Homo sapiens: one gene and its partners. The protein of the gene in region 7 interacts with the protein of the main gene of each other region in a pairwise test. Each region holds a gene or a part of one and is shown on either strand. Other genes may lie near its edges. The genes, in order: JPH3, LMO1, CTNNA3, TRIM42, TRIM23, PIH1D2 and TASOR2.

Region 1 (3,500 bases), on a different chromosome or scaffold from region 7:
AGCCTCTTGAGTACCTGGGATTACAGGCACCCATCACCATGCCTAGCTAGTTTTTTTGTATTTTTAGTAGAGACAGGATTTCACTATGTTGGCCAGCGTGGTCTCTAACTCCTGACTTCAGGTGATCTGCTCGCCTCGGCCTCCCAAAGTGCTGGGATTACAAGCATGAGCCACCCCACCCAGCCAACAAACGCTTTTTAAATATAAGTATGTCCCATGCAGCGTGTCCCCTAAAGAACGATGTGTTGTTCATCTGAAACTCAGATGTTACCAGGCGTCCTGTGTTTGATGTGACAACCCTGTCCACAGCCCTGGCACGGAAGGGGCAGTCGCTGAGGGTGCAGTCTTGGGGTGAGGGTCCCTGTGATGGCAGCCTGTGTCCAGCTTGGACTGGCCATGGGAAGGCCACTGTGTGGGCGGGTCTGGCCTTGGTAAAGGGCCACCCCCTGAGACCCACCGAGCCTAGTTCCAGTTTCCTCCTCACAACCCCAGCCTGGAAGGGCGTTCGGGTGTGGAGCAAGCCACAGGGTTTCCCCCCAGTGTGGTTCGCATTGGGGTGCCGGGTGGTTCCGAGTCAGCTGCCCCCTCTGCCTCCTCCCCGTGCCCATCACAACTGCCCCCAGTGCTGGGACCTCTGGGCAAGAGGCTGAGGCTGACACTCTGGAAAGGTGTGCAGTGGTGTTGTGGGGTCCCTGGGGTCCGGTCCACATACATCCCTGCTTGCCCGGCTCTTGGCATCCTGTAGGAGAAGGTGCCACAGCCTAGTGGGTGGGAGGGCAGGAGCCCCATCACTGGAGTCGGAGGTTGCTTTTGATGTTGATGGCAGTGAGGTTGCTTCTGATGTTGATGGCAGTGAGGTTGTTTCCGACGTTGATGGCAGTGGACTTGCCTCCAGGTTAGCTGCCTCCCCAAGCAGCTTTGGGGGTACAGAATGACCGACCAGTGTGGGATCCCAAACATCCTATCCCCTTGCCTGAAAGTGGGACGAGGCTGAAGCTGACCTCTCGCTGAGACCACCTCATTCGGCCCCGTCCTCTGCTGCCACGTCCTTCTTCCTGGTACCCCCCTTCTCCAGCCCCAAATAAGTCACGTTCACAGGATCCCCAGCTCAGGCTCTGCTCCTGGAGAAGCTGCCCTCAGAGGCTGCGTTGCCGATTCCTTTTTCAACGGAGAGGCTGCAGCGTGTGGCAGGTGCCACCATCTCTTGGAGTGAGGCAGCCTCAGGGGCTCTGTCCGGGGCTGCAGCCTGATTGGTGATCTTTGCACGCCCCTTCTCTGCCCTGGCTGGGCCATATGCCACATGGGGCGTGAGGGGCCTGCAACACAAGTCCCTCTGGGGGCTCGTGATGTGGTTGAGCTGGAAGATACATTCTGGAACATCTAAGACCCCAGCCACTGTCCTGAGTCTGGATGCCGCGGGTGCCGGGCATGGGGGCTCTGGGCCCGGGCCCTGGGGTGCTTGGAGGTGCTGTGGAGGAGGGGTGGGGCTGGCTTGGAGCCCATGGGATTCGATTGGAGGGTGGGAGTGTGAGAGAGGAGAGAGCGTGAACAGAGCCTTGGACAGAAAAGCCTGGAAGGATCAGGACCCTTTGGGGGGTGGCGGGTGAAGGTGGCGGGGTGTGGGGATACCCTGGGGACGGACAGGTCACTTGAGGCTACAGGACTTTGAATTCCACACTTAGTTTGGATCCCACCCTCTGGTGTGGGGCGTGTGAGTGGAGGGGGCCTGGCTAGGGAAAGGGGGGGGGCAGTGGGGAGTGGAGGGCTGCTTCGCTCCGAGAGATGGCGGCACCTGCCACCCGCTGCAGCCTCTCCGTTTAAAAAGTGACTGGCAGAACAGGAGCAGCTGCTGCCAGCTCCTGTCCATTTTGTCCTCTGAAAAGAGAGGTCGGGGTGGCCAGGTCCTCATTTTTCAGGAGACAGAAGAGAGCTGAATTTTTATGTCAAATCTCTTGGTTTTGAGTTGTTAGCAGGTAATTCCAATGTTTTATGAAAACAGCGGTGGGACGAATAAAACCTACGTATCAGTAAGTCTCGGCCTCCAGGCCTCTGGTCTGCAGCCTGTGCCACCGTGAGTTGGAAGAGTGGTGGACGGACTCTGTTCTCCCCGCAAAAGCCCTTTCCAGGGTGGCACATCCACGCCGTTAGTGCCCGGCTGCAGGGAGAAGCTCAAATGACAAATGAGGCTTGAGGTTTGCCGCGTTGGGCGTCGTGCTGAGGCCCAGCCGTCCTCACGGTGACCTTTGGCATGAGGAGTCCTGGTTCCACTCTACAGACGAGGACACTGAGGGCCAGCGGGGCCCAGAAACTTCCCTGAGTCACAGCTCACAGAGCAAGACATGGGCCCAGGTCTGCTGACCGGGTTTCCTTTTTATTTTATTGTGGTAAGAGAAATACAGAATGTACCACGTTAGCTACTTTTAAGTATACAATTCAGTGGTATTAATTACCTTCACGGTGTTAGGTAGCTGTCATCACTGTTTACCTCCAAGGCTTTCCCATCATCCTACTGCAAAACTCTGTCCCTATTCAACACTGACCCCACAACCCTCCCCAGCCCCTGCACCCACCGCGCTTTCTGCATCTCTGAGCGTGACTACTCTAAGGACCCCGTGTACATGGAATCATCCGATATGTGGCCTTTTGTGCCCAGCTCAGTTCACTCTGTGTAATGTCTTCAGCGTTCATCCACATTGCAGCCTGTGTGAGAATGTTCTACCTTTTCAAGGCTGAATGATGTTCCATCGTATGGACGGACCGCATGGCGTCTGTCCATTTACCAGGTGATGGACTTGTGGGTTGCCTTTCCCTTTCCAGCCATGGAAACAGTGCTGCTGAGAACCCAGGTGCACAGGCAGCTGCTGCAGTCCCCACCCTCCCTTCTTCTGGGGATATCAGGTCTGCTGATTTTATGTCTGAAGGTCATGGGCCACTGTCCCTTCCCTATGCCCTTGAATCTCTTCCATGGTGTGTCCACTGTGTGGTCTTCCTGGATACCTCCAGCAATGGGGAGCTCACTGTCTCCCAGAGCAGCCCATTCAGGGCTTAGTGTGTAGCCCACACCTGTGTCCCTGTAGCTGCCACTCATTAGCCTCCTAACCCAGGACGCGTTTCCTTGTGCCCTTGGCAGGGGCTCCGTATTCACTCTGGGTTCTGTGGTCCTCACTCTGCACCACAGACTCTGATGCCTCCCTTCTCCCTCCCCGATTTCCAAGAGAGAACAAGATCTAGCCATGAGAAGCAGGATGGAGGTGTCTTCAAAAACAGCCACTGGTGATAGAAGTTGTAGGAAGGTACCATGGTCTGTCTGCCTCCACGCAAACCTCACCAGGTTTCATCAAGATAGCACACCAGGAGTGGTGTGGCTCATGACTGTAATCACAGCACTTCTGGAGGCTGAGGCAGGATCACTTGAGCCCATGAGTTAGAAACCAGCCTGGCCAACATAATGAGACTGCCATCTCTACAAATAATTTACAAAGTAGTGGAGCATGGTGGTG
Region 2 (3,500 bases), on a different chromosome or scaffold from region 7:
CTTTGGAAGTGGAGAAGCCCCAGAGGTTCCTATGGCATGTGTCCCATCTTGCTTGCCTGTCCTGTCTGGAGTTGGAGGACACTGAGACATGCAAGGTGTCCTCCCATTTCCAGGCTTAGCTCTTTGTGGTGCTGCTAGAGTGAGTTTTCCCAGCAGGCCCATATTTGGGATTGGACTACACCAGTGGAGTCAACTTGTCCTGGCTTGCAAGAGATTCTGTACATCTGTTCCCAACTCTGAGTTCAGAGACACTGCATTGGTAGCTTGAAGTCAGCCACAATGGGAGTATTTGTACCATGGATGTTGGCAAACACTACAAATCAGGGCATTTTCCCAAAGACTTGGTCGTTAAGCATGCATCAGCACACCACTGGATTGCATTCATCTGGGACTCTGGACCTACCCTTTTCTCCTCTGCTACCACCATTCTCATCTCACCTGCTATCTTTCTTGTGGTGCTCATTACAACCAGTCTGACCCAACCTCTGCTACCCTGGCATCCTGCCTGAGGCCTACTGCTGCTTTGACCATCACACTAAACTATGCAGGTTTAGTATGTCTGCTCTGGTTTTGGGTTCCATGAAGACTCAGCATTTGCCTCTATTCCCTTGTTCCTATGTCCTCCTTGCCTGGCATGCCCTTTCTCCTTTAGTTGGCTGAGGCTTCTCCCAGGCCATTCCAGGCCATGCTCAGAGACACATCCACCAAACCTAGCAACAAGCTTGTTCGCTACTGGTGGGAGTGTGTTCGTTTTGTGTTCTGTCCAAGGCAGGAGTTCACAGTAGCTGATACAACTGGGGGCAAATTAAAAGCAGGTGGTGTGAGAGGAGTGAGCAGATTGGTCCAGGTCGCAGAGGCAGCTGCCCAGTGTGAAGGCCCATGGGCTCAGGTCACTAGCTCCTCCCTCCTGTCCCTTCCCCTGGAGGTCAACTGGGCTTTCTTGAGTGGCCTCCTGTCTACAGGTGTAGTCCGCTAGCATGATTCAGAAAACCTGGGTTTTGTCCCAGCTGACTGCTGTGTGACTTCAGCGCACTGGGCCTCAGTTTTCTCATCCCTACAAAGGGTGAAACACCTAACTGGCACTTTATGTCCAAGCACACACTTGATAAACCAGAAAGTTTCATGCTTGTATGAATTGACATTGCTCTCTGTACAGTTACAGTATCATCTTTTGGCTTTGGCCTCTCAGTCTTTAGGAGTCATAAAACACTATAGCTATCATTATACTGAACCCGTACTTAAAAGTGCAGCATTGGCCGGGCGCGGTGGCTCACGCCTATAATCCCAGCACTTTGGGAGGCCGAGGCGGGAGGATCACGAGGTCAGGAGATTGAGACCATCCTGGCTAACACGGTGAAACCCCGTCTCTACCAAAAATACAAAAAATTAGCCGGGCGTGGTGGCGGGCGCCTGTAGTCCCAGCTACTCAGGAGGCTGAGGCAGGAGAATGGCGTGAACCCAGGAGGTGGAGCTTGCAGTGAGCCGAGATCCCGCCACTGCACTCCAGCCTGGGCGACAGAGCGAGACTCCGTCTCAAAAAAAAAAAAAAAAAAAAAAAAAGTGCGGCATTGTGCTATCTGTATGTATCAATTAGTTATTGCTGTGTAATCAGTTACCCTAAAATGTAGAGCCTTAACACAATAAGCATTTATTTAACTCAAAAATCTGTGGGTCAGTGATTTAAGCAGGGCTTGGCTGAGCAGTTTTTCTGGTCTCAGCTGGGCTCACTCACATCTGGAGGATGGAGGATGGCTGATCAGTTGGATGCTGGGCGTGACAAGACTGCATGGCCCTCATTAGCCAGAAGGCTTGTCCGACTTGTTCTTATGGCAGAGACCGGTCCGGAAGGTGTGGAAGCACAAAAGCCTTCTCTTTTTTGAGACATCTCACTCTGTTGCCCAGGCTGGAGTGCAGTGGCACAATCACAGCTTCCTGCAGCCTTGACCTCTTGGGCTCAAGTGATCCTCCCTCTTCAGTCTCCCAAGCTGAGACTATAGGTCCATATCACCATGCCTAGCTAATTTTCGTATTTTTTGTAGAGATGAGATTTCATTACGTTGCCCAGACTGGTCTTGAACTCCTGGGGTCAAGCGATCCACCTGCCTCAGCCTCCCAAAGTGCTGGGATTACAAGCTTGTGCCACTGCGCACCACCACACCCAGCCTACACAAGGCTTCTTGAGGCCAAGGTTTGGCACTGGGATCTTGTCGCTTCTGCTGCATTCTATCGGCCAAAATAAATCACAAGGCCAGCCCAAGTTCAAAGGGTGGAGAAGCAGATTCTGCTCTTGAAGGTAGGAGGTGAAAAGTCATATAACAAATGGTGTGGCTGTGGGGAAGGGTAGAGAATTGGGGCCATTTTTGTAATCAGTCCACCAAGCATCTTCCATGTATAATCTCATTTAATACCCATAAGAACCTTAGGAAGAAGCTACTATTACCCTCATTTTACAGATGAGAAAATTATTGTACAAAGAGATTGAGTAATTGGTTCCAGCTCCCACAGCTCAAGAATGCCAGGGCTGGGCTGTGAACCCAAGCAGGCTGACTGCAGAGTCAGTGCGCTCACTCTCTCTGCTCTGTCTGCTCCCTTTTCCAGCTGTCAGACGTGGGGATGGAGAGAAAGACACTCAGAGTTCAAGGAAGGGTGACGAACCTGTGAGAAGATGACTTGGGGAGGGAGGAAGGTTGCTGTGGGCAGTTTGAGTGGGGCTGCCATGGGAGCCCAGCTCCATTCCTCCCAGGGCCAGCCTCGGTGGGGAGGGACCATAATCAGGTCAGTCCCCGTTGCCTCTTTCAGGTTTTCCTCTCTGTCCTGCAAAGCCACTAGACGGCTTGAAAGGATGTGATGTTCTGTGTTCCCTGAGCTGACTTAGACCTGAGCATATATGCAGATGCAGCCAGGTGAGAATCAATTCATTGGTTGGCCCCTAGCCTCAAAATGGGGTGGTAAGTGGGCTGGTGAGAGGCCTGTGTACATTCATAAACCAGCTGATTGAAAAGCAATATTTCAGATAAATACAAGCCAGCGATCTATCAGTGGTTGTAATAAAACCCAGGCTTCAGGCTGTGATTTTATTTTGAAATAATAAGAATTGCTTGATTCTTTTTACTTGAGTTACCATGGTAATTCCGGCGTGGAGCAGTGTTATATTGATTTAGAAAGTGGACAGTAATATTTCTTTTGTGTTATTCTGTTTCTAGGCCTTGATTTCTAATTTCCACTTGGAGATTACTTTTATAAATTTCTTAAGTCCTTCCACTTTTTTTTCCTCTCACAGTATAATTTTCCTCTCATACGCCGCTATGTTCTGAGCTTATTGGTTTGCTCTTATTTTAAATTAAACTTGCTGGTTTCAAATATTGAAATGACATCTTTGTCTGTGTCTGTACTTTGGTTTAGCAAAATATTACAGTCTGACGCATTCTGCTTAATAATTTAGGGGAGGCATTCTGTCGGCCCTCACTGGGTGCTGATAACTTATGACTCAACCAACGCAG
Region 3 (3,500 bases), about 61 Mb from region 7:
AGCAAAATAGAGCAAAGGTTATTTTGGATCCTTTACCAATACAGCTTCCTGTAAATAATGAAAAGTGCAACCATTTAATTTACCAAATCATTAAAAAAGGTTAAATGCTCAATAAATTCTGCTTTATCTAGTTCAGTCAGCCACAGCAGCTATTTGTAACTTGGATATAAAAAATATAGAAAACTTAGGCATTTTTTACTAGTTTGTGCATCTGTACCTTTGACTAGAACTAAATTTCAAAGGTTGTTCAGACAGTTTAGAATCCTCATTAGGATCTCAGAGAAATATCTTTTGGACCCCTTCCCGCCTCATGAAGAACAACTGAGTCTGCCTTTCTTAAGAGAACACTGTTGCCCTGCCTATGCCCACTCCCACTGAAGTTACACACATAACACGCACACTTTCTCCTCCTCTCCAACCACTGCCATTTTGTGCCTGTGGCAGTCACTTTCAACTAAAAAGAGAAAAGAGAAGAGGTCTCAGAAGGAGGAACAATTTGGAAATGTCTTCTTCTTTAATCCTAAAATACAGAATGCATTGTCTGAGATAAACTGGAGCTCTTATGGGAGCATTCTCTGACACAATTGTGTTTTAGTACTGTGAAAAATGTGCTATACAGGTTGAGCGTTGCTAATCTAAAAATCTGAAATCCAAAATGCTCCAAAATCTAAAACTTTCTGAATGCCAATGTGATGGCACTAGGGAAAAATTCAGCATCTAACTTCATGTGACAGGTCGCAGTTAAAATGCAGTCAAAACATCATTTCATGCACAAAATTTTTAAAATGTTGTATAAAATTACCTTCAGGCTATGTGTATAGGGTATATATGAAATATAAATGAATTTCATGTTTACACATCAATCCCATTCCCAAGATAATTCATTAGGTATATGCAAATATTCCAAAATCCAAAAAATTCCAAAATCCAAACCACTTCTGGTCCCAAGCATTTCAGATAAGGGATGCTCAACCCGTATGATCCTATCTATCTACTCTAACAAATTTCAATGTATCACACTCGGCACTCCCCAGATACAGACTACAGATGGTCCCTGACTTGATTTAACAATGGTTCAACTTATAATTTTTTCCAGCTTTATCATGGTGCAAAAGTAATACATATTCAGTGTGTATATAGAGTGTTTCAGGCCCCTAAAGGTCATACCCTTCCCAGGGTAGAGTAACCTGCATCCAGTGACTGAAAGAGACATACAGGCCTGGCCATTTCTGCCTGACAAGGTACACTCTGGAGGGCAATGCTCTCACCAGAGCTCCCTGCTGATTGGCCTAGGCTTTGCGGGTCTAGCTGTCAGGTAGACTTCTTCCTCTATCCAGTCCCGCTCCTTCCCTCTTTCCTTCCCAAATGTAACACCTTGTTTTCCAAACTCCATTCTGTGTGTGATTCTGGAGGACCCAGCCTACAACACTAGCCATGACTCCTTCCTTTCATTCATGTCCCACATCCATTCTATCAAAATTCAGTTGACTCTATTTACAAAATTTAGCACTGATGTCCACCAACACCACTCTAGTCTAAACTAAAACATGAGGTGGTTCATGTAAAGTGTATAAATGGAACCTGGGTTACTACAATAGCCTCCAGCCTGGTTTTTCAGTTCCTCTCATTGTTCTCCTTCAGTCTATGTTCCTTATGCAACTATCATAGTCCTTTTAAGACACGAGTCGCAGCATGTCACACCTTTGCTTAAAACCTTTCAGTGTATTCCCATTTAACTTGGAGTAAAAGCCAAAGTCCTTAAAGGCATACACACTCCTAAATGGTTGGTTCTCCAACCTTAGCTCCTGCTACTCATCACTTTGCTGTCTTCACCTAGACACCCTGGTTTTTATGTTGTCACTTAAACACAGGGCACATACCTTCAAGCCTTTGCTCTAGATCTTCATCTGCCCGATTCCTGAACTCTTTCAAGGCTTTGGCATTATCTCACCTTCTCAGTGTAACATCTATACAATTTTGTTCTCTACAGTGTTTATTGGTTTTATTTTTTGCCTATAATCACCTGCTAAAATGTAAAAATTTGTCAAGGGAAGTGATCAGATATGTCCCAAGCACATAGAACAGTAATGCCAATAAGTATTTGTGGAGTGAATAAATCTTATGCTTCATAAGTAGATCTACATAAAACAAAGTCATCATTTCGATCTAATTAACAATCCCACTTCAAATTCATTGGATTCCTTGGCAGAGATGTACAGGAGTCAGAAGTTTACTAACAGAGTACTTTCCTGTTAATCAATTCTTTGGAAGACTCAAGAAGGTGATAGAGACTAATCTGGATTTTTTATTTTCTCATGCTCTAAACGCCAACATGTGGATCTTCTTCTGTTTTATTATTATTATTACTGTATTAGGACATCAGATCACACTTTATCTTTCTCCCGACTTACCTCCAGCTCATCAAGGGCACTTCCCAGGGTTGCTGCCTGAGGTTCTGGTGGGGTTGTCATATTCTGGATCCCTTGTGAAGCATTTGAAATTACATTGAGAGCATTCTGAATTTCTTCACAAACTGTGTCCTTGCTTGCTTTGAGGGAAGCAACATCAGAATGCTCCAAACAAGCTGAACAAATTGAATGCAAGAGGGGAGAGTTCTCCTTCAGTGAAGCTCGGGCTCCTGCAATTTCATCTCTCTGATTTGGAGATTTTAAGTCCTGAGAAGGTAAATAAAAAGAGTGGTATCTTACAATGGGTTATGGGAGAAAGACTTAAATTAAAAAGCTTCTTTTTTTGTAAGTATAAATGAAAAGATAATAGACATGAAGAAGTCAGCTATAAGTTATAATCAAGGGCATCTATTATTTCTACATTCTTTCAGTTTCTGTTAAAAATTCTGCAGTATAAACAATGACACAGTTAATAAGTAAAGGTCCCCGTAGAGCAGATGTGTAAAGATCCATTACTATTCAGTCAAGTCCTTGTCAGTCAAATCCTTATAAGTAGCTAAAATACTCTGGCATTCACATTATTAAGTGCATTACATGGGAGCTTGAATTACAAGGATGCTGATTACCTCATTCCATAGATGTTGATAATTGCATTTAACCTCTCCGTTAAAATTAGACCAATTGAGTTAAGAACACTAATGAAACCTCCCACCATTCAGCTATTTTTCTTTTTCAGAAATACTAATAAATTAATCCTATATCATTCTTTCTTTGATATTTATTCAACAATTAGTTACTGAGCACTTAGCATATTCTAGCCCTTGTGCTGGACTCCAGTGTACAGATATGAAAAAATCCTACAAGGACCTTGTTCTTCTTTCTTTTGGGGGGAAAGGGCCTACAGACAAACAATGAACTAGATGAACAAATATACGAGATGATTTCAGGTGACAATAAATGCTATGAAGAAAACACAAAAGTGAAGTGTCATAGAGATTGACTTGAAAGGAAAAGCTGCTTTAGGCTGAATGGTCCGAGAAGGTATTTCTTCAGAGATGACAATTTGCAGTAAATGTAAATGAATAGCATTAC
Region 4 (3,965 bases), on a different chromosome or scaffold from region 7:
GAGTCCTGACAGTCACAGGTGCTTCCCAAGTATATTGGAATGGAGTGGCCCTGTGGTGACAGAGAATGCTCCCTGTGTATATTAAGGCACCTGGAAAATTTGTCCCTTAGGGATCTGGGAGCTCTAGGCATGCTGGCCTCGATGTTCTCACCTCTATTTCCTCTCTGCTTTCCCAGATTCCTGCATGGGTCCTGAAGGGATCACCTGGTGGTACAGGTTAATTGTCCATGTAGTGCCTGGATGGACTTTAGTTTGCTTAAAAAAGTAAGGCCTGGAGAATCAAGGTATAATATAAAGAGAGGCTGTTATGAGGCCTTCACAGGAGGTATCTCTACTAGGAAGCTCATGAACTAGCATTTTCACAAAAAAGAAAGAAGAAGTGGGGGAGGGAGGTGTTGGAGGATGAGAAAGAGGTCTCAGGGCTAAGAGACAGGTATTAATGGCCTAGGGAGCTGTGTTAGGGGTGAAAAAGGAAGTGACAAAAAGATTAAGATGGAGAGGGATGAATGAGACCAGAGTGAGGCAGGACAAGTAAGGTGCTGAGCAGAAGGTGGTGATGAGAAGCAGGGGAGGCAGAGGGTCAGAAGCCAGGAGAGAGGCCAGATTGAAGAAAAGCACCCAGAGCCGACCTCCTAACACTTGTGGTAGCATCCCTGCCCATCCTCCAAAAGCCTCAGGCTTGGACGGGGCATTCAGTGGCCATGGTTCCATTTCAAAACAGTCATCAAGCCCAGCGCTTTTATCTTCTTGCTGAGATATCCTGTCTCTGCTCCTCTGCACAGCCCCCTCTGTCTCCCAAAATCAGGCCTGTTCTTGCACCTGGATTCTTACTGTACCACCTATCAAATCTCCTGGCTTCCCTCCTAGCCTCCTGCAGGCCATTCTGCACATTAGAATCACCTGAAGCGGGGTGGGGGGGTTGATTCTAATTAATTCAGATGCTCAGATGGTACCCCAGACCAATAAAATCAATGTTTGGGGGGGTGGGGATCAGGCATCAGTAATTTTAAAAGATCCTCAGGTGACTTCAATGCACAGTAACGTTGGGGAGCTACTGAGCCTAAGGCATTTTCCTAAAGCACCAATTTTATCCCTTTCCTGTTGAAATGGGCTCAGAGGTTCAGTTGCTGTTGCACAACTGAACAACAGGTAGTTGAGAGAGGAGTGTGGACACAATTTTCCATGTTTTAGGATTTCTAGACTTGCATCGAGAATCCCTGGATTTCCTATTTATGCAAACACTATGAGAGGGTCATGGGTGGAGAGCTATGTTTGTTAAGCATCTACTAAATGTTTAATTGCAAGATGGATAATATCTTTCCCCTGAATTCACCAAACCTTTGCTCACAGAATTGCTTTTCCAGGCTTGAAAGCCTTCAAACTGGCCTTCCATTTTTCTGCCTCTTCTAATCCTGTCATCTTATGGTGCTGTCATCTTTCCGCTTCTAAGAAGTGTGCTCTTACTACTTCAGACTCCCCTCATGTGTGACATAAAAAGACTGGTTTGGTAGAGCAGGTGAGGATAATGTAGGACCTGATATGAAGGGTTAGCACTCCAAATGAATAATTGAGACCCTAAGTACTATGACTTCTGGATGGGAAAAAGAAGGTAGTAGGAGTTCATGGATGTATGGGGTATTTATATGGTCCGCAGGGTCAAAAGTGCCCCATAGAAGTTCTTTCTTTTCCATTAAAAGTTACAGGTATTAAGAGTTCATAGGAAGAGAAAGAGCAATTTATATTTTTATATCACATACAGATTACAAAGCACATACATTAATCCTTATATCTACAATATCATGGGGGGGGTATTGTCTCCGTTTTGCAATACAGCATTTTAAAGTTAAGATCCCAAATTTTAGGTTCCAATCCTGACTCTGTATCTTTCCAGCTGTGTGATCCTGGGGCTACTTAACTTCTCAAAGGATCAGTTTCCTCATGGAAACAGTGGACTTAGGGTGAGGGGTTAGCTGGGGTCATGCATGAAGTGCCTGGCAAGTTCCTTAAGCACTAAGTATTAGCTATTACTGTTTTGTACAGATGAGAGAGTTGGGGTTCAGAAGAGTGAAGTGCTCATTTACATAGTTAATGGCGCTTAGATTTGGAGCTCATGGTCTACATACATAGTGACCATTTAGGATACAATTAATTGCTACAAAATTCTTGGCTCCTCCTTTTAGATAAAGAAATGAACTCAGAGGCTCACTGGCCTGCCCTGTAGACTTCACAGCTGGCAAGTGGTCCCTAGTTTTCATGACCCAATGCGGCCCCACATCTGGTGCCTGGCACTTACGAGGTATGGATGCTCCTGAGGCGGCCCTTGTGGAAAGTGATGATGGTATTGCGGCAGCAGCGGCTCTCATAGTAGTAGCAGTTGAGATTGCTGCTGGCTGTGCAGCAGCACTTACAGTTGGGATCATTGGCCCAAGAGCAGCAACACCAATGGCAGTTGGGGCTCTCAGAACAGGTGCAGTGGCAGAACTGGCAGTTCCGCTCATCTTTGTAAGGGCAGGGGAAGCAGGTGCAGTTCCGCTCTGAGGTGAAGATGAACTTGCAGCACAGACAGGAGCATAACTGAGGACAACATCTCTGCCATGTACAACATGGACAGCAAACGCACATAGCAGTTTCCATGGTGCCTACATGATTACCACCGGCCTCCCAGGACTCTTGATGCCTCCTCTACCAGAATACTGCTATCAGTTCTCCAGTGGAGGAGTCCTTCCTCCCATTCCTGAGGCCGTCAGCTTGAAAGTTGCAAGAAGTTGGCTGTTATGAGGACTTCACAGCTGGTGTCCCTACCAGGAAGCTCATAGGCTGGCATTTACATATATCAGTCTGAGGGTATTTGCTTATGTCACAATCCCTGTCTCTCTACCATGCTAGGTAGATAGCAGGATGCGGCCTTGTGGGTGGTAGCTGGTATGTTGGTGGAAACTCCATGCTTCCATGGAACCAGCTGTAGAGGAGTGGTGATGCAATGAGCATCCTGGAAGTTTAGTTGTCATTTGTCACCTTTTGGATAATGGAGTAGATTTCTGAAGCTATTTCTCCTTGTTTGGTGTTCTGCCTGCAATTTGGACAAGTGGACTTCAGATTATGTCTTCGTAGACTGAAAGGCTTGGGTATGGTTAATTAGAAAAGTAGATTCACATGGTTTTCCACATGTTAGAGGAATTGATAGAATTCTATTTGAACAAAGGACAGTGTTTACAAATAATAGCAATGCCATATTTAAAGAGATATCACCATTCAGAGAAAGAGTTAAAGAAAAAAATATATAGGTTCACTTAGGAACTTCTTTCAGTAGTAATTGATTTTATCAATCAATGCATAGTCGCTGCTCATTTTCATGAAGCTTTATACTTAAGTCACTCTGAATATTTCTTGGGTTTTTTGTAGCTGCATGGTGTTTGGGTGAGGTTCAAGCTTTCTGTCTTTTCCCCATCCTACCCCCACTCCAAAAAGAGGCTGGAACTCTACATTAAATCTTTAACTGTTCTGCTAGTATATGCTCAGTATTCCTAGAAAAAAGACCCTATATTTTAGGGAAGAATTTCACCTTCCCATTTAAGCAGCTTGCAAAGATTAAAAGAACAGAAATTTCATGGTCATAGTACATTATAGTATGAATACTGTCTTGTTTTTAGAAAAAGAAGCAGAAGTGAGAGCTGAGTTTAGCTGCAGGAATTTACTGCATAATTTAGTATCTCCCCCTATGGTTATCACCTTTATAATAGAGAAAATCACTGAGTGCCAACTATGCCAGCCACACATTGATATTAGATTTCTACAAGTGAAAATCCCGGCTCTTAGGGTATGTCCTTTATCTTTTTTTAAGGCAAACTGCTAAATTTCTTACTCAAATAAATGTGCCAGTTAATACCAGCAAGGAACATACAACATTCAAAAAAGTGAAACTCCTTTTCCTCACGTTTGCCAAAACTCAGTTTTATCAATCTCTC
Region 5 (3,500 bases), on a different chromosome or scaffold from region 7:
TTCCAACTGTCCCACCAATACTCTGTTTCTTCTTTTTATCCCCATCCACATTTCAATCCCATAGTCATACAATCTTGCATTTTTTCTCTGAGATGCTGATATCTTAGAGCCAGAAAAGAGCCCACCACCATGACAGATCAGTATCAAATAAGACCCCAAGAACTTGGCTGTAAGCTAGGGTTTGTCTATTAAGGTAAAAACCAATATTCATACTTACCAATTGTTGGAATGGGCTGCATGAATTCATCCTGTTTTAACTTAAACAAGATAGTAGTTTTTCCAGCACCATCCAATCCTAACGTAACGACCCGAATTTCCATTTTTGGTCCAATGTGAACTCGATTATCCTACAATTTAAATATTTTTAAATATGTTTGACATGCAGTTAGAAAGTAATAGCATTTAGCACCTTTATTATTTCTACATCTCCTATTCATTCCTCAACCATTGCAATCTGAATTGTATTCCTCAAAATACTGAGTCTGATCTCAAGAAGATGAAATCCTTCCCCATGGCTAAATCTTGCCTTAGTAAAACTGACCACTTTGTCTTTGTATAACAGAATATACATACCCACTTAATTTTCTCAGATTTTCTAACTCAAATGAATCCTCTAAATCTTAAACATGTTTTTATGCTATACTAAAAAAATCACAATAAGGGTAAATCAATTAAAATGAAAAAGTGCTGCTCAATTCCCAGAAATTTCTACTATGAATCTGATGTATATCCCTCCAGACACTTTCCATGCACATACTGGCCAACATACACAAACAAAACAAATTTTTTTTTAAAAAAGTATTACCCACACATTGAAACTAATGTGTTTCACTCAACAGTATATTATGGAATCCTGTCAATACATATTGACCAACCTTTTTCTTTTAATGGCTTCTTTACATTTCATAAACCACAATTTAACTAAACCCCCAACTGATAGATTTTAGGTAATTTCTGATTTTATGATATTACAAATAATGCTATAATGAACATTTTTATATATTACTAGCTGCATGATTTCTCTGCTTCACTTCTTTCATCTCATAAAAGGAGGATTAAAATAGTACAAAATTTACATAGGATTCTTGAAAGGATTAATTTTTAAGAATACATATAAAAGTCCTTACAACAGTTCCCAAAATATATGTGTTATTTTTGCTTACTCCTTTGAGCACTCTTTGCTTGGATTTTATGATACAAACTTTTCCTGGTTTGGTTTTATCCCATTTTTGGATGTTCCTTCTAATTTTTCTTTAATCCAGCTCTTAAATGTTGGTATTCTTGAGGGTCTATATGAGGCCTCCTTCTCATTCTACATATTTTCATTCTCTTCATGAGCTTTAATTACCATGTATATTATGGCTCCAAATCTATACTTAAGTCCAGTTATACACCTCAGAAATAAAACAATATATGGAACAGAACTACTTCTGTGAGAACTCTAGAGAACAGTTAAGAAACTACAGCACCCAGGCCATAAAACCAAGAAGGCATTCCAGTGAAAGGGGTAATAAAATTTGGGGCATTCTGTGCACTCATCCCTGCCCTTCCCCATATCCAACATAGTGAGGATGAGGTGCAACCAGGAGGAAACTACAAAATACTAGCAAACTGAATTCAACAACACATTAGGCCGGGCGTGGTGGCTCATGCCTGTAATCCCAGCACTTCGGGAGGCCGAGGTTGGGGGTGGATCACCTGAGGTTAGGAGTTCGAGACCAGCCTGACCAACATAGAGAAACCCCGTCTCTACTAAAAATACAAAATTACCCAGGCATGGTGGCGCACGCCTGTAATCTCAGCTACAAGGAGGCTGAGGCAGAAGAATCGCTTGAACCCGGAAGGTGGAGAATGCAGTGAGCCGAGATCGCGCCATTGCACTCCAGCCTGGGCAACAAGAGCGAAACTCCGCCTCAAAAAAAAAAAAAACACATATTAAAGGGATTGTACGCCATGACCAAATGGGCTTTATAACTGGAAGGCAAGAATTATTCATCATCAATCAGCATAATACACAGAATGAGAGAAAAAAAGCACGTAATCATCTCAATAGTTGCAGAAAAAGCATTTAACAAAATTCAATACCCTTTCATAATAAAAACATTCAACAAACTAGGAGTAGCAGGAAACTGCCTCAGTTAACATACACCATATAAGAAATGCCCACAGCTAACATCATACTCAAAAAACTGAAAGCTTTTTCTCTAAGATAAAGAACAAGAAGATGCCCACAGAGCAATTAGGCAAGAAGAATAATAAAAGACATCCAAATTGTAAAGGAAGATGTAAAATTATATCTCTTCACAGATGACATGATCTTGTATGTAGAAAACCCTGAAGAGTCCACACAAAAAGACCTATTAGAATAAAGTCAACAAAGTTTCAGGATATAAAATCAACATGAAAATCAGTTGCATTTCTATACATTAATGATAAAAATCCCAAAAGGAAATTAAGGAAACAATTCTACTTAAAATAGCATCAAAATTATACTTTCAGGGATCATTTTTATAGTTTATGACTAAAGAAGTTTCTCTGAACATGTACAGAAAAAAAAGTTTAAGATACTTAGGAATAAACTCAACCAAGATGGTGAAAGACTTAAGATACTATGTTGGTGCAAAAGCAACTGCGGCTTTTGCCAGTACTTTTAATGGCAAAAACCACTATTACTTTTGCACCAACCTAATATGTAGGCGTACACCTAACCAAGATGGTGAAAGACTTGTACACTAAAAACTACAAATATTGCTAAAATAAATTAAGACATAAATAGACATTCCATGTCCATGGATTGAAAGACATAAAATATTAAGATATGAATAACAGCCCAGGTAATTTATATAGATTCAATGCAATCCCTATCAAAATCCCAATCATGTTTTTTGTGGAGATAGAAAAAATTAAGCTAAAATTTATAAGGAAGCTCAAGTGACCCTGAATAGCCAAAACAATTTTGAAAAAGAAAAAAGTTGGAGGACTCACACTTCCTTACTTCAAAATATATTACAAAGCTAATGTATTGTTCTGTTTTTGCACTGCTATAAAGAAATACCTGAGACTGGGTAATTTATAAAGAAAAGTTTAATTGGCTCACAGTTCCACAGGCAGTACAGGAAGCATGATGCTGGCATCAGCTTGGCTTCAGGGAAAGCCTCAGGAAACTTACAATCATGGTGGAAAGCAAAGAGGGAGTGAGGCATTTCACATGGCAGGAGCAGGAGCAAGAGAGAGGGTGGGGGAGGTGCCACACACTTTTAAACGACCAGATCTCATGAGAACTCACCTATTATGGCAAAGACAGTACCAAGGGGGATGATACTAAACCATTCATGAGAAACTGCCCCCATGATCCAGTCACCTCCAACCAGGCCCCATTTCAACATTGGGGATTACAACTGGAAATGAGATTTGGGCAGGAACATAGATCCAAGCCATATCAGCTACAATAATGAAAACTATGTGGTACTGGCATAAAGATGAGACATACAAACCAACAG
Region 6 (3,720 bases), on a different chromosome or scaffold from region 7:
TTTAAAACAAGTGTGTCATAGCAATAGTTTTTAATTCTGGTTGATGTTTATTTGAGAAGAAGTGAGTTAAAAAATATAAGACATGGCCAGGCATGGTGTCTCATGCCTGTAATCCCAGCACTTTGGGAGGCCGAGGCAGGTGGATCACCTGAGGTCAGGAGTCCAAGACCAGCCTAGTCAACATGGTGAAACCCCGTCTCTACTAAAAATACAAAAAAATAGCTGGGCGTGGTGGTGCATGCCTGTAATCCCAGCTACTCGGGAGGCTGAGGCAGAATCGCTTGAGCCCATGAGGCGGAGGTTGCAGTGAGCTGAGATCGTGCCACTGCACTCCAGCCTGGGCAACAAGAGCGAAACTCCGTCTCAAAAAAAAAAAAAAAAAAAAAAAATATATATATATATATATATATATATATTTGACATAACAGGTGAAGAGAAAATCTCAGTCAAAATGAACTTAGAAAATAATGGAATTGGTGTTTAAGATAAACTACTACCTCTTTAGCCAAAATGAAGGTCCTTTAATTCACATGACTTTAGCACTGAAAACCCAAAACATATGATGCTCTTCTTTCACACCAAAGGCATTGTGATGATTAGCGTGGATTTTTCTTTGATAAATTTTGCTGTGGTCATTTCAGTATCAATAAGTTTTGGAAGATTCAGATGTAATCTGTACTTCTCAGATACTTCAATCAATAAATCATCCTAAGAATAATAAACCAAGAGATTTATTTCCTGCTTAAAATTTGGGATACTAACTTATTGTTCCCAGTTATTCACTCCTTTGCCATAAAAAGATCCCATTTGTTGCCATGTGACTTGGAATGAGCAAAAAATTACTGTTGTAAATCCCTTAGATTTTAAGGTGGTTACTGCTGCTCACTACATCACACGTTAACTGATACAGTACCACAGTAGAGTGTTGCCATCCTAAATTATGTGGCTGACCAGCAAACAGCAAGGAAACTTATTGGAGCCTGGAAAGGTAGTGATCCATGTTTCATAATGATGAAGCCTTTAGTGAAACTATCACAGTAATTTGGATGATAAATACTCTGTGCCTAGTTGATTTGTGGCTTTAGGTGAAGAAGTGGGAAAATAGATGGTAATGTGTTGGTTCTGTTCACTACATTTAACAGGATATTACAAGAAAGATGAGCTTAGAATGGACCATTTTGCAAGTCAAATTAAAAGGGAATTGGCTGAGTGCGGTGGCTCACACCTGTAATCCCAGCACTTTGGGAGGCTGAGGGCAGGTGGATCACTTGAGGCCAGGAGTTCGAGACCAACATGGGCAACATGGCAAAACCCCGTCTCTACTAAAAATACAAAAATTAGCCAGGCTTGGTGGCACATGCCTGTAATCCCAGCTACTCAGGAGGCTGAGGCAGGAGAATCGCTTTAACCTGGGAGGCAGAGGTTGCAGTAAGCTGAGATGGTGCCACTGCACTCCAGCCTGGGCAATAGAGTGAGACTGTCTCAAAATAAATAAATAAATAAAAAGGACTTTATAGAGCCCCAAGATTCCAAGACTCAATGACTGAAAAGTGGAACTAATTTTTATTTTCAGCAAGTAAGGGATAAAATTGAGAAATTACTTTTATCAACCAAGCTGATTAAGGCAATATAGAGGCAAAGATTAAATCTTTATGCTCTTTGTTAAAACCTCTGAATTTTTTTTGTTTTTTTTTTTTTTTGTTTTTTTTTTTTTGAGGGGAGACAGAGTCTCGCTCTGTTGCCCAGGCTGGAGTGCAGTGGCTCGATCTTGGCTCACTGCAACTTCCGCCTCCCGGGTTCAAGCAGTTCTCCTGCCTCAGCCTCCTGAATAGCTGGGACTACAGGTGCCCACCACCACGCCCGGCTGATGTTTTTTTTGTATTTTAGTAGAGATAGGGTTTCACCATGTTGCCCAGGCTGGTCTCGAACCCCTGAGCTCAGGCAATCCACCCCCCTTCGGCCTCCCAAAATCCTAGGATTACAGGCATGAGTCACCGTACCCAGCCAAAACCTCTGACTGTACTAAGGTGGACTTCAGTAAATCCTTACATTTGGCTAAAATGACAGCAATTAAGTCTAAAGAGACAGGTAAGTCTTGAAATATGGGCAATGTCTAAAAAGGAATTATGGGTATCACTGACTGGAATCAAAATGCTACCAGCCTGGACTAAAAGAAACTGCCTTCAAAATTTAAAACAATCCTTTGAGCCCCAAGATTCCATGAGCAGGAACCAGGCTGAAGAGGCTACTTAGCATATAAGAATGGCACATTCTCCGATACTCTTCAGATGTGGCCAAGGTGGATAGTGGGAAAGGGAAAAAAAAAGAAAACATCTTCCTGAAGACTGAAGCTAAAGGTCGTGGAAAAAAATGGAACTGGGGAGCTAGGTAATTACAGAACTTTCTCAAGGAACCTAAGTAAGAACATCCTCTACCTCCAGAAAAGGAGCCCTCACAATGTCTGCCTACTAGGATTTCAGAATTGCTGTGCACCAGTAACTGCAGTGTGCCTCTTATTTTTCCCATTTCTGAATTGAGATGGTTAATTACGGTTATCTTCTCCCCATTCCACATTGCATGACAGATGGGACTGAGGGAGTACATAACTTTTTTTACATGTCTTAGTCCATGGTTCAAGAGGAAGAGAAAGCAAAATTCTGTCCTTTGGAGTCTGATACTGGGATTGGAGGTGTTTTCCTTCCAGAAAGAAGCAAATATTTGCAACCAAGAGTGTAGACTGGTAGACTGTAGGACTGACTCTAACTATTTGCTCTTCTGTAAGAGGATAGTACGTTTACCCTGCCATATGACTTCCTGTGACTGTGAGAATACACTTCTCAGTCCTACTGATGTAGAACTGGCCTTGTGACTTACTTTGGCCAGTGGAGCGTGAGTAGAAGTGATATCATGAAGTGTCATGTCTGAGTAGAAGTATTACGATCCACTGCATGGTTTGATCATTCTATTTTCCCTTTGCTGAGATGTGAATGGCACATCTCAGAAGGGAATTGCTCCTTCACCGGGTAACCTGAGCAAATCATTGTAAGCCCCTGAAATTATGTAGTTTGTTACTGTGGCATAATATATGTTAGTGAATGCTGGCCAATACAAATTTACAGTGTTATCTATTCAACTTACCTCAGAAACACTAAGGTCACAGAGAGAGACAGAATTAATACCAGGTAATTCAACTTTCAACTCAATTTTCAGAGGTTTCTCACTGTGATCATGCACAATTTTTAGTTCATAGGCTGGCATCTTCATCTCCACCTGGATTTCAGTACTGGAAATCTCTTCTATCAGACACACTGCTTTGCCTGAAACTTGGTCTTTTGGCAGTAACAGTTGAGGAAAGTGATCTGGATTGCTCATAGTACTGCTTCGTATCTGTCCAAGAGTTAGTTCTTTATGAAAAAAAGGGTGGAGGGGAGATAAAAAATAAATCTACAACATAAAATACTATGAGCTATAATATATGTGGTGTTAGTAGAGATGGTAGATAAAGCTGCAGTTAAATTAGTTTGGGAATCAAGCCAAAAGAATCTTAAACCAAAGAATTTGATTGAAAATTTTTCAGGATTTAAAAATCAAGGATATGATATTTCTAATATTTAATATTTGCATTTTTCTATCTTAAGTTTTTCACCTTTTAAAATAGAGATTTCTAGTTTGCAAAATGTATACAGGATCCAAAAACATCTTAAAGCAGTTTAATTTTCC
Region 7 (3,500 bases):
CGTCTGCCCGTGTGAAAAAATCTTCTTGCTCTCGTATAGTGCTTAGCTGTGATGACTCCGTTAAGATCACTTTCAAATGTGAAACAGAATATGCATTCAGTTTAGACAGCAAATATACCAACAACCCACTGGAGAAAACTGTAGTAAGAGCATTACATGGGTGAGTATGAGTGAAACTTAGTGAAAATGGATGAAACTTTTCTGTTGAGATGAATGTAGTGAGATGGGGAAACTTATGCCAAACTCTGGAGAAGGAGAAAGAAGTGTTGTGTTTAAAACCAGTAATTTGATAATAACATCAAGCAAACATGTTTCCTGGCAATTAAGAGTAACAGGCTGGTTTTCCCCCTGTGCTCATGTGGAGAAGTTTTTAAAGATAATTTTAGCCTAATGAATAGCTTTCCATTTTGCAATGCTCCCTCGTAAGCCCTTGTGGCTTTTGAATTTCAATTTTTAGATGAGATCTTAATGTAAAATAGTGTGAGATTTAGAAATAATGCTTTACAGACTGAATTCCAGAAGAAACATTTTAAAAATCACTGTAGCTTGGTAAATTGGTCAGATTGATAGGAGTAAGCAGTTTCACATAAGATTGTTCTATAGATCTCCCTTAAGAAGGAATCAAGTCAGTAATAACAGAGTGGTGAACAGCACAGGCTTTGGAGTGTAGACTAACCTAGATTTGAACCCGGGTTCTTTCCCTTTCTTACCTCCTGTGATCCTGGGCAAGTTTCTTGCTTCTGGACAGTGCTTCTTAATTGTGTGTGCTGCTCATCTAGAGATTTCACTGAACTGCAGATTTTGATGCATTCTCCTTGGGAGAGGCCTGACATTCTGCATTTCTAACAAATTTTCAGGTGATATCAATGGTGGATGACAGTCTGTGGCCAACATTTAATTATGTAGCTGTGTCCTGAGGTTACATATATTGAGATGCACAGTGACTGGCCAGTAGTAGTAATAAATGGTAACCATCACTGTTAGCAAGCATTCATTAGCTATATGAATTGACATTCAGCTCCCTATTAATGAACTGTTTCACATCTGACTATATGGACTCTACAGCTGTCAGGCTTTCTTCTATACACCTGTTCATATATACTCATAAGGGTCATTTCCTTAGAACTTCCTGTTTAGCTATTGCCCAACTCTGCAGCCCCCCTGACTTATGGTACTCCAGCGATCTGCCATCCTTTTGCCTGCCAGGTGGCCAGAAATGTTTTCTATTTCCCCTTACTGTTTCAGGATATTTTGCAGAACTGTAGTCTGAAAATAGTATAGTTCTGTTGAATTGCCCAGAGAGATATTTTATCTTCAGACTTTCTCAATTATTAGAAGAGAGACACAAAAATGGAAAATAAATGAATCAGCCAGACTTAGCAAAAGCATGGTGATGAGGATTTGGGTATTGGCGAAACCATTTCTATAATAAGTATTCTGTGTCCAGAGTGAATTTGTATGGTGTAAAAGACACGTGCTACCCATGTTCAGATCATGGTTCTGCCATACAGGTTTTGTGATTTGAAAGAAGGCAATTACATGTTCTGATTCTCAGTTCCCGTCTCTGTAAAATGAGTGGGTTAGATGGATAATTATTTGTTAAGTCAACTACATATTTACTCATTCATGTTTCATATCTGTAAATTTTAAAAATAAAAACAAAAACTAAGGAATATTGGAGGCACTTGCTTATGATAAGGTAATCAACTAAAATAACCATTTTCAATGATTTTCATGTGTTCTTTCTGTAAACTCTTAGGCCCTGGAATACTGATTTGCCTGATAATGTGGAAGAAGTGAAGCTTTTACTTCATATGTGGGTAGCTCTGTTTTACAGCAATCAGAACAAAATCATACGATCTTCCCGAAAGGTTGTAGAACACAGCAACCCAGCAAAATATGTGTCTATAAATAGCACGTTAGAATCTTGTGAGCTCCGTGAAATTGAGGAGTCCCTTGGTTTGGAAAAATGTTCTGCAGACTCTCTGTTGGAGACTAACGAAATTTCCAGGGCTCATGCTGCTGAAGTATCCTTCCGTGATCCTAACTGCTTGCTTCCTTTCATTAAAACACCACTTACCCAAGGCTTGGAACTCTGTGTACAAAATGAACAGAAAAAAACTTTTGCAAGAGAGTGTGATCCAGACACCCAAGAAGACCAGAATTTCATCTGTTCTTACAATAATGAGGTATGTAAAGCTGAATACCGTTAAATGTTGGCATTATTTTTGAAGAAAAAAATGTTTATATGTAAAATCACATTCAAAACAAGGCATTTTTAAATTTTAGGACAGTGAATTCTCAAGGTATGTAAAGAACTATTACACCAAAAACCTAGTTTTCATGAAGTGTCCTTGAATTGTCTGCAGGTAGAGCTTACCTGCCATCCCGATTGAAAAAAACCAGAGTAGAAAAATGTCACAGGGTCCACATGATCTGGGAGCCCAGCATAATTTGGGGCAAATTGCTTCTTTGCCTAATTTTTAAAAGAGGTGACTTAATACCTATCAAGTCTTATGTAGAATATTGTTTAAGGATCAAATATAGCAATAATAAATCTTAGATATACTTTGATAAACCTTAAAGTAAACTAAAATTAATTGTATTAAAATTATTTTTGAAGACAGATGCTGGAATAGTAAAATGCCAGACCTGTGAAAGAAGACCCATTGCAAATAACTATTTGTAAATATGGAAAATATACTTTGTTTTGTTCCTTGTTCTCAACTGACATTCAACCAGGCCAGATAATCCAAATTTTACCTGGAGCAAATCTAAAAGTTGTTAACAAAATTCTAAGCAAATGAATTGACAAAATTACCTACCTTTTAAAGTTTTCCGCCCAAATTTATTCTAGAATAATATTGCTTGGGTTTGGGCAGCATCTCTGATTCCTGTCTTAAGAAAGAGTAGACAGTGTTCCTATACCCGGGGTCACCGGGGACTTGGAGGTCCTTGGGTGAGCCTCATAGAACCCGTGAATATCTTCAAGTGATTGTCATCATCATGAGAATTAAAGATTTCTGGGTCACTGTGTGCCAGAAAGTAAGAGTTCTAAGCCCTTCACTCATATTAACTCAGTTCATTCTCAAATAAGTTAAAGACTATTAATCTCCCCATTACATAGATGACGAGACTAAAGCATAGAGAAGTAAAGAAATTGCCTAAAGTCACATAGAAAATTGTCAAGCCAAGATTCCAGTCTAGAAAACCTAAATGTTAACTATGTATGTGCTTTTTTTTTCCCCTAAAGATGGGGTTCAGCAGTTCCATCCTATTCTCAAAGAATTACATAAAATCCAGTTAAGAATCACCACCTTAGAATAAGAAAATATAGTCTAGTCAGGGAGATTTAAATTAATACATATATACATGCTAGTTTCTTATAAAATACCATTTGTCGTGGTAATATGTAATTAACTATCATCAGTACTAATTTTAGCAATGATTTTGGCAAGCCTGACTGTTCAAATCAGTGATTCCTAACAATCTCCTTAGTA

What was found.
Region 1: the proteins of TASOR2 (region 7) and JPH3 interact in binary tests that used the Homo sapiens proteins (3 or more experiments, as listed by UniProt).
Region 2: the proteins of TASOR2 (region 7) and LMO1 interact in binary tests that used the Homo sapiens proteins (3 or more experiments, as listed by UniProt).
Region 3: the proteins of TASOR2 (region 7) and CTNNA3 interact in binary tests that used the Homo sapiens proteins (3 or more experiments, as listed by UniProt).
Region 4: the proteins of TASOR2 (region 7) and TRIM42 interact in binary tests that used the Homo sapiens proteins (3 or more experiments, as listed by UniProt).
Region 5: the proteins of TASOR2 (region 7) and TRIM23 interact in binary tests that used the Homo sapiens proteins (3 or more experiments, as listed by UniProt).
Region 6: the proteins of TASOR2 (region 7) and PIH1D2 interact in binary tests that used the Homo sapiens proteins (3 or more experiments, as listed by UniProt).

Annotation. Positions count from the first base shown.
Region 1 is NC_000016.10:87,640,508-87,644,007, forward strand, and holds part of JPH3 (junctophilin-3), read left to right. Parts: intron 1-3,500. UniProt on the Homo sapiens protein: Junctophilins contribute to the formation of junctional membrane complexes (JMCs) which link the plasma membrane with the endoplasmic or sarcoplasmic reticulum in excitable cells.
Region 2 is NC_000011.10:8,253,879-8,257,378, reverse strand, and holds part of LMO1 (rhombotin-1), read left to right. Parts: intron 1-3,500. UniProt on the Homo sapiens protein: May be involved in gene regulation within neural lineage cells potentially by direct DNA binding or by binding to other transcription factors.
Region 3 is NC_000010.11:67,217,196-67,220,695, forward strand, and holds part of CTNNA3 (catenin alpha-3), read right to left. Parts: intron 2,676-3,500; coding exon 2,412-2,675; intron 1-2,411. UniProt on the Homo sapiens protein: May be involved in formation of stretch-resistant cell-cell adhesion complexes.
Region 4 is NC_000003.12:140,676,899-140,680,863, reverse strand, and holds the start of TRIM42 (tripartite motif-containing protein 42), read right to left. Parts: upstream 2,801-3,965; 5' UTR 2,635-2,800; coding exon 2,294-2,634; intron 1-2,293.
Region 5 is NC_000005.10:65,596,834-65,600,333, forward strand, and holds part of TRIM23 (E3 ubiquitin-protein ligase TRIM23), read right to left. Parts: intron 348-3,500; coding exon 218-347; intron 1-217.
Region 6 is NC_000011.10:112,067,298-112,071,017, forward strand, and holds the end of PIH1D2 (PIH1 domain-containing protein 2), read right to left. Parts: intron 3,405-3,720; coding exon 3,139-3,404; coding exon of another isoform or gene 3,130-3,138; intron 709-3,129; coding exon 574-708; 3' UTR 501-573; downstream 1-500.
Region 7 is NC_000010.11:5,740,338-5,743,837, forward strand, and holds part of TASOR2 (protein TASOR 2), read left to right. Parts: coding exon 1-160; intron 161-1,759; coding exon 1,760-2,189; intron 2,190-3,500.